Linked DNA regions of Homo sapiens: region 1 is linked to region 2. The links come from fine-mapping of genetic effects on gene expression. A gene starts in region 2. The other region holds a variant in brackets. All regions are shown on one strand. Distances are from middle to middle.

The links. PIP is the estimated chance that this variant, and not a neighbour inherited with it, causes the effect. A credible set is the group of variants that fine-mapping cannot tell apart.
Region 1: its variant is the best candidate, but not a certain one, in a credible set for the expression of WNK2 in esophagus muscle (GTEx, PIP 0.51).

What each region holds. Positions count from the first base shown.
Region 1 is chr9:93,263,855-93,268,097 of GRCh38, reverse strand. It overlaps WNK2 (WNK lysine deficient protein kinase 2), which reads right to left. Exons shown (of 30, transcript NM_006648.4): 16 at 4,065-4,181; 17 at 182-352; 18 at 33-78. LOC124902214 (a long non-coding RNA gene) reads left to right here. Exons shown (of 2, transcript XR_007061668.1): 1 at 1-656; 2 at 2,518-2,950. Among named protein-coding and RNA genes, the nearest start is that of WNK2, 82 kb to the right of the region's middle. The variant A/G (reference allele first, on the strand shown) is at 2,613.
Region 2 is chr9:93,181,829-93,186,071 of GRCh38, reverse strand. WNK2 (WNK lysine deficient protein kinase 2) reads right to left here and starts at 1,933. Exons shown (of 30, transcript NM_006648.4): 1 at 1,687-1,933; 2 at 462-1,144. The coding sequence starts at 1,142.

The DNA.
Region 1 (4,243 bases), 82 kb before region 2:
CTTAAAAGCAGGGAGGGAAGTTGCAGACTCACCGTTCTGCTGATACACGGGGGCGTTGGCTTGGGATTGTCGGCTCTCCTGAATGAGGTGGAGGGTCAGAAATGAGCCCACTGAGCTGCAGCGCCCACCTGCCCAGCCACTGCACTCTCACCACCTCCCACCCCGGATTTCACAACCTCACCTCCCCGGTGCCCAGGCCGCAGGTGCTGAGGTGTGGCGGGCTGGTCCCTGGGTCGGAGCCACGGTCGGCGTCTGTGTCCTCGCTGAGCATGTCCTCTGCCTTGTCCATGACATCCTTCATCTGCTCGATGAACGTTTCCCGCTCGGCCTGCAGGATAAAGTCATGCTCCACCTGCAAAGGGACATACTGCCAGTGAGGACCAGCTGCAAGGCCAAGACCACCCTAGGTCTTCATCTGGATTGACGGATGTCTACCCTGTACCAGGCCCCAAGGGAAGAATGGTGAAAGGGTGCAGTCCCCAAGACAGGGGCTGGACAGCTCAGCAAGTGACATGGATGGCCCCAGGATGGGAGGAGAGCAGCCTCATCTTGAGAAGCAACTCCCTCCTCCAAGCATGGGACCTGGGCCAGCAATGCCCTGCCCCAGCTGGAGCTGGTTACAGACCCTGAGGCCGGTCCAGCCATCTTCAGAACAGGTAAGTGCATAGGATGCAGGGGGCCGAGGACGGGGACTGGGAAGAGGGGAGGGGGTCCATCTGGGCACAGGTGCCCAGGCAGTCATGACAGACAAGAAGGATGGATTTGAAGGCAAAGGTTCCAGCCAGCAGGAGGTTGTGGGGGACAGAAAGCAACAGGGGGACGGGAAGGTTATAGCAGGATGGCCATATGTCACCTGTCGGTCTGCGCACCCCCTGCTCTCCCAGCCTCAGGCTTTGACCTTCAACTATGGCCCGGGCACACAGGCAAGCGTGGCCTGATGTCCAACGAGCAGCTCCTGTCATGGCTGAGGGGAGGTCCCACACCACAGCCTGAATGCCACGAAGCCTCCAGACCAGGGGCTCAGGAGATGTCCACAGTCTCCAACTTTCACAGTGGGCATGTGGCCCTGGGCTCACACCGGCTCTGGCTAAATCCTCGGCCATTCAGGCAGAGAAAATGCTGTGCATCTCATAAAACCATAACCAATGGAAGAGGTCAGCCTGTGCCACCACCCAGTGGGGTCCAGACCCTGCCCCTTTCCTGCCATGGCACCTCCTCCCAGGCAGACACCTCTGCAGTCACCGAGATGCTCTAGGCCCTGCCTGGGGCATCTGTGGTCTCAGATCCCTTCTAGGATGGGCACATCTGCCCTACTATAAACAGCTGGCTGAAAAGCAGAGCTCCTCTGCGCTCCACACTCCCCTGGCACCCCAGACCCCAACCCCAGGAGCACCACCTGCATACACCTCCAGACAAAGTGCTGGCTTGTGCTGTGTTCCGTGATTCACCACTTAATTTAGTGTAACATGTGACTGCAATGTTGTCTAAGAGGAGTACACTGTGGCCAAAGTTGGAACATCCAGCCAGCTGTGACTGGAGTGCCACATACGAGAATTTAAGCAACGTTCCAATTTTGTGAAATTTTCACTAAACAAAACTGAACTAGAACCCCTTTGCAACTAGAAAATGTTTTCCTATTATGTTTCTTTTCAAGTATGTTGAGAATAAAATTAACTTGAAAACAAAATAAAAATCTAAAAATACAAGGTCCAGGTAAAACCTGGCATTAGAATCCACGCCAATTAAATGAAACTTCTGCAGTTCCACCTTTACTAAGGGGCTGGCAAGGTCGTCATGGTCAGAATGATGAACCCAAGGCCTGCCGACCTCTAACCACTGATGGGACATTCAGGGACAGCTGGTACCTCACACTCACAGAAAGACAGTCCACAGGGCGGGCAGAAGCTTGTCTAAACAGCGCCTGTCCCACAGGCCACACACCCACCCTTCAACTCGAACCTCTGGAGCCAGTCTGTCCCTGGGATAGGAATGGGCTGTGAGGAGGAGGGCTGCTGGGCTGTTTTTATGGACCAAATTTGTATATCTGTAGCATGCTTACTTCACACAGGTATGTTAGGTGACTTGGTTTACTAAGATGGCAGAAAAAGCAATAAAATGAGAGGAGTATCCGAGTGCTGAGTGAAAAAAACAAGGCTGAGAAGATGCTATTTTTACAAAGCACACAGCTAAAGATAGCCCCATTGCTTACTGTGCAGGACTTACATGTGTGCAGCTCACAAAGACTCACACACAGAGACACACAAGAAGACTGAAAACCAGGGGGCCAGTGGACACGACACAGGCTGATGTGGCTGATGTCGCATGTGTGGCTTCCTGCTCGGGCAGGCAAGCACTGGAAGCGTCAGCCGCACATGCAGCATCAGCTGGTGGCTGAGTGATAACTTCACGGGTGTTCACTTTATTATTATGCTTTATCATGTTTGAAACACATGTGTATAAAGTAATACAAGACACAGGTTTAAAACACAGTAAGATGAGAGAAGAAATGTTCTCCAGTTTCAGTGGCCCAGTGAGGACCTGGTGTTTGTGCTGCGCTGACGAACCAGCTGCTTGCTGCTGACAAAGACTCCTCCCTGACCAAAGCGCAGCTC[A/G]CGCCTCTGACCCTCCAACTAGGCTTGACTAGGCCCCATCATGTCTTCAGCCTAAGCCAGTTGTAGAAAGAATTCCCAGCCTTTGTATCTGACCATATTCCTCATCTCCCACCTTTGAGGTTGAACAAAGCCTCTCACCCACCCCCAGCAAGGATCCTGTTACGAGGGTTTCTCCAGAATCCCTGACCTTGATGTCTCCTCTTAGCTATTTTCCAGCCACCCATCACCACACTGCTCCTCTGCTACCAATCCCCTGTGGTCTCTGCTGCATTTGGAGTTAAACTCATTCTCTCTCGCTTATTGCCACAGTCCTGAATAAAGTCTTCCCGACCACTGTAGCAAGCGTCAGAAGAATTTCTCTAATGCTGCGGGGGATTATGCTCTGGACCTGGGATCTGGGAGGGCTTTGTCCAAGGTGTCTCTGCAAAGCAGACACTAAGGCAGGGACTTGCTCCCTAGGAGCAGAAAGCCAGGGGCTTCCCCCTGCAAAGCCCACATGAGGCTTTCACGAAGCCAGGGCAGGGGTGGCCAGGGGGATGCAGCCCAAGGGGGCAGCTTTCTGATGATGTGCAATGCAGCAGCCGCAGGCAGGCACGTGGGGCAATCTATGATATTAACTTGAGTGGTATATTCTATTCCCTACTCATGCCGGCCTACTCCAGGCACTTGGTGGCCATCTGGAGTGAGCGCTACAACACTGTCCAGTGTGCTGCTGGCCCCTTTAGGACCTGGCTCCCTAAACCTCACTGATGCAGGAATAATGGTCTGGGGAGAATGTTCTCCTGGGAGGCAGTCACGGATGCACCAGGAAATTTGAGGACCACATGTACATCCTTTCCATGTTTCTTCGTGCGTGCTTTCAGCTGGAGAGTTTCTGAGGGCCCGAAAACGATCCCCACTCCTAGCCTGGCTCAGGTGCTGGGGACCACAGGTGTGGGGCTGTGAAGGCCTACAAGGTGCTCATGGACTCAGGTTGGTCTGCACAGGCAGGGAGGGGTGGCTCCAGAGGGAGATGCAGGCAGAGCTGGGTGGGCACATGGGACATGGGTCAGGGCTCAGAGCCCGCACTCCAGCTGGGGAGGCTGGAGGAAGCTCTAAGCAAGGACCACAGGACATCAGACTCCGGGATGCCCTCCCGTGCCTCACTCAAGGAACCTACCCACAAGGCTTCCTTTTATTTGGAGGAAGGGCTCAGATGCTCCAGAAGCCCTCAGGGAGCAGCATCTTAGAATGGTTAGAACATCCTTCAAGCTGTTCTTCCAAACCCAAGGGGTTTCCGCCCAGTGTGGGGAAGAGCCCGAGGCGTAAAAGGTCAGCACTGTCCCGAAAAGCCCCTGGGCCAACCGACACCTCCACACAAGGCCAGGCTCGACATGTGACCTGTGGCGCTCTGCTCAGGCCCACACGTGTCCAAGAAACACCGGGAGCCAAGCCACCCAGACCCAGCCTCACCATATACGTGGCAATTTCATCGGGTGCGTCCCCGTCCAAGTCGAACTTGAAGGTCACCATCTTGTGGTTGTGCGTCTCCAGCTGGCACTCCACCATCTTGTCCCCAGTGTTGCACACCTGGAAGGGGCAGCATCAGCACCCACCACGGGCGTACCCACACGTGCACCCGCCACACCCCC
Region 2 (4,243 bases):
TGGGCAGCCCAGAGCCCCCAAAACACTCTGACTGCACACACCGGGCCTTGAAGCCTCCACACTGTTTTGCAAAGACACAACAGTCCAGACTCCCTGGGTCATTAAAGTAGGTCATCGGGACTGGAGAAGCAGCAGCCTAAGAGACACAGCCTCCGAGGCCCACTCTCCAGGACCCTCTCTACGCCCACAGCGTGCACACTTACACCAAACGCACAACAGAGGCCTGCCCTCGCCACCAGCTGACTCACAAACCGCAACCTGCGCACGGACACAGCCAGGCCCCACATGCCGTCCGCACACCTGGTATGCATCCTGCCAGCCATCCACACAGAGGGTGACACACATGGAGCCCCGCCGCCCCCAGGGCTTCTTAAGGCCAGGCGCAGGAGCAAGGACAGGCCCAAGGACGCACTCGCGGACAGACCCTGCGGAAAGCCCCCTGCGGGCTGGGGCACCCTCACCTGCAGCTCACACCAGGCCACCTCCACCCAGGTCTCCGTGTCCAGCCCCTTGTAGACCGTCTTGAAGGAACCGCGGCCCAGCTCGATGTCGAACTTGAGGAAGCGGCCGTCCAGAGAGGTGGCCACGGCCTTGAGGTCGTCCTCGTCGTCCTCCTCCTCTTCGGGCTCGTCCCGGCGAGTGCGCCCGGGCTCAGGCTTCGCCTCGGCCGCCCCCTCATCCTCCTTCCTCACGGTCGCCGCCGCCTCCTCCCTGGGGCCGCCGTCGGGGGCAGGCGCGGTTTCGACAGCGGCTGCGATGGGGTCCGGGCCGGGCTCCTGCGTGCCCACGGGCTCGGGGCCGGCGTCCGCGGGGGCTCCGGGGGCTCCCGGCTGCGCTACCAGCGCTGCGGGCGCGGGGGCGGCGGGGCGTCCGCGGGCGCGCTCCGCGATGAGGCGGCGCGTCTTGCAGAGCAGAAGCACCCGGCGCTGCAGGGGCTGCGGGGGCTGCGGGCCCGGCGCCTCGGCTGCCTCCAAGCCCGGCGGCTCCTCCTGGTCCGACTCTACCACGCTGCGCCGCAGAAAGCGCTGGGGCCCCGGCCGCGCCGCCTTCGCCCGAGGCTCCGCCATGCCCGCGGGCCCCGCGCCGCGCCCGGGCTCCATCAGCGTGCCGGGGACGTCTCGGCGGCCGCCATCGCCGTCCATCTCTGTGGGCCAAGGACACACAGGCCCGCGTGAGCGCCGGCCCTGCCGCACCTGCCCAGGCCGCCGGATGAGACAACGCCGCCCTAAGCCCGCAACCTGCCCAGCCCCGGCCGCGGAGAGAGCCTGCGGGGGCCGTCTCTGGGGGCCCTGGGAAAGGGGGGCTGCAGACGGGACCAGAGGCTTGGGTTGGGGAGGAGGGGTCCGTGCCCTGCTCAGCCCCAGGCTGCGGAGAGGGACGGGCCTGTGGTGTCCCTGGAACCCTGGGAGAGAGGACCTGCTAGGGTGTCCCTGAGGGCCCCGGAGGCCGGCAGAGGGATCTCGCGCCCTGCCCAGCCCTGGCCCAGGAGGGTTCTGCTAGGCTGTCCCGGAGGCAGCTGTAAAGGGGATAGGGAAGCCCGGGGGTGGGAGGAAGGCAGTGGCCCGGCGGCGGCTCCACAAAGGACGCGGGCCCGGGGCGCGGGAGGGGCGCGCGGGGAGGGGGCTGCAGCGCCGCGGCGCGCACACAAAGGCGGCGAGCGGCGTTGAGGGGAGGCTCGGCACTCACAGGGCGAGCGGACGCCGTCCATGCCCGCGGCCCGGCGGCCAGGGCGTGCGAGGCGGGAGAGATCACGCTTCGAGGACGGGGTCCGAGTTCCGGGCGAGGTCCGCGCTGGGGTGGGGGCCGTGGCGCCGCTCCAGCTCCTGCGCGCTGCTCTCTCGGGCCGGGCCACTGCGGGGCCGCGCTCCCGCGTGCTCCTGCCGGCTTCGCGCGGCTCCGCTCCCGCACCGGCTCCGACCCGGCGCGCGGGGAGGGCGGGGCTCCGTTCGCCCCGCCCCGGACCGGCGCAGGGGGCTGGGCCTGGCACGCCCACCTGGCTGCGGACGGGCTGGCTGACTGGCAGGCGCGCGCGGCCACCTGCGGGCCGGCTACCTGGGCTCCCACCCGCGGTTCTTTGCTCGAGGTAGCGCTCCTGTCCTCTGAAGTTCTTTGGAACGCCCCGCAGGGCTGTCAGCTGCGGAGGACCCCGTTTCTTCCTGAGAGGAGGCAGCAGGCTCAACGCCTCAGCACGCCGCAGCCCGGCGCGCTAGACCTCAAGGCCCTGTGCCAGGACAGAATGGGCAGGCTAGGAAGAAAAGGACCAGGGGTACCGCCGCCCTCGGGAGCCCAGCCTGGGGCTAAGCCTGGTGGGGCTCAGCGTGTCCTTTCCTGCCCTCACTTCACCACCAGGAACCATGAGGACCTCATCATCACCCAGGGAGGCACTGGTGATCATTATGCCCATTTCACAGTCTAGAGCAAACTGAGGCGCCAAAGGCAGAAGTTATATGCTCTAAATCCCAGAACTTTCAAGACCGAAGCTGAGCTGGAATGCCTTGGATGGGATATGGAGAGGCTTCCAGAAGCCCCTTGACCCAAAGTGTTCTTCCTTCCCACCTCTGCCAGATGCCACCTCTCCCGAGAAGTCTTCCATGATCTCTAGCTCCTTCCTCCTCTAGACCCCCACGGACAAGCCCTCTCTTGGGCGTCTCTGGCCCTAATGCAGCAGGTGACCTGTGTCAGTAACCATACTGCTAAGTTCTGAGCCCTGCTCCAGGCAATGCCCTGAGCTAACACTTCACCCTTACCCCAGCCTCCATGATCCTAGGTGAGGAAACTGAGGCACAAGGGAGATACCAGAGTATTCTCATCTCAGTCCCCATCCCACTGGGCTGGCACCCCCATCAGATACACACACACTTCCAGAGATGAAAAGATGCTTGTGGGCCTGTAGGCCTTGGAGCCCCTGGCACAAAATAACTCATGTGGCATAAAAGCCAGCAGAGGCGATATCTCACCTTCACAATGTAGAGGGAAGAATATGCCAGGCCAACTGTTACCCAGAGAAGCAGGACTTCCTGGAGCCCCGCTGGGCACTGGCACTGGCTGAAACTAATTTGTGAGGGGCAACAGTGAACATCCCTTCCCAGCTCTGGGTTCAGCAATGCCACCCTGTAGCCTGAAGTCAGCAATGCTGGGAGTATTTACACTGCGGAAATTGGCAAACACCTCAAATCAGGACTTTTCTCCCCAGAGAGCCAGTGGTTAAATAGTGTGCTAGGTGTAGGGCTATGCATTTGGCACTTGCCTGTTATTTATATAATCTAATCTACCGTGTGAGACAGGCATTCATTCCGGGGCTCAAGTCCGCTGGCATGAGCCCAGAGCTCACACGAGGAGGAGGCCAAACAGCAGACGCCAGCTCTGCAGGACAGAGAGGCCTGAGGGACAGGGATCTAAGTTGCATCTCCTGGGGCAGGAGTCTTCCAGGTAGAGGTCAGGGGTGGAAAAGGATCTTTTCTGTCTTCCCTTTGGAGGCTAAAGACCCCCCAACCTTGCCCCTAACCAGCTGAGTGAACTTGGGCAAGTCCTGGTCCTTCCTGAGCCTCAGTATCTGGCCCTGCAGAGTGGGCTGATCATCCTGACTTGCCCACCTTAAAAGGCTGCCAATTCCTTGTAGATTCAGTCAATCTAGGAAGGGCACCAAGTCCACAGACCTGTTCATGATGGGTGTGTTCAAGCCTATCCAAGGGAAAACCAGGATGGGACAGAGCTAAGCGTGTTCTGAGACCAGCACACACCTATCTGGCCTCCTCCTGCTCCCAACAGGCCACACTGGCAGTGTGTGGGCAAAATACCTGCCAGCATCGGAGAAGGTTCATCAGCACCCATGGCTGCTGCCCACCCACACTTGTACACATGCGTGGGAAAGGATGGCTACACCCACAAATCAGCAGGGAGCAGCCCAGGCTGTGGGGAGTGGGGGACAGCCTGTCCCTGAGAGAGTACTGTGTGCTCTCTGAGCCCTTGGGGTGAATTCACGCATCTCTGCTTACACACCTCCCATGGTGGAGAGCTCATTCTCTCTGCCAACCCATGACCATTAGGGTACACAGCTAAGTCAGTAGTGGACAGGTCACAGTTTCCTCTGCAAGGAATCTCAGGCTGGGCTCAGGAGCAGCTCCTGGGATCCTGGCAGATGGAGCCTGAGGGATCCTTGGACAGACCTTGGAAGTCAGGACTTCACAGCACTGGCTATATGCCCTTTGGCAGGTCACTGGATATCTCTGAGCTTCCATCTCCC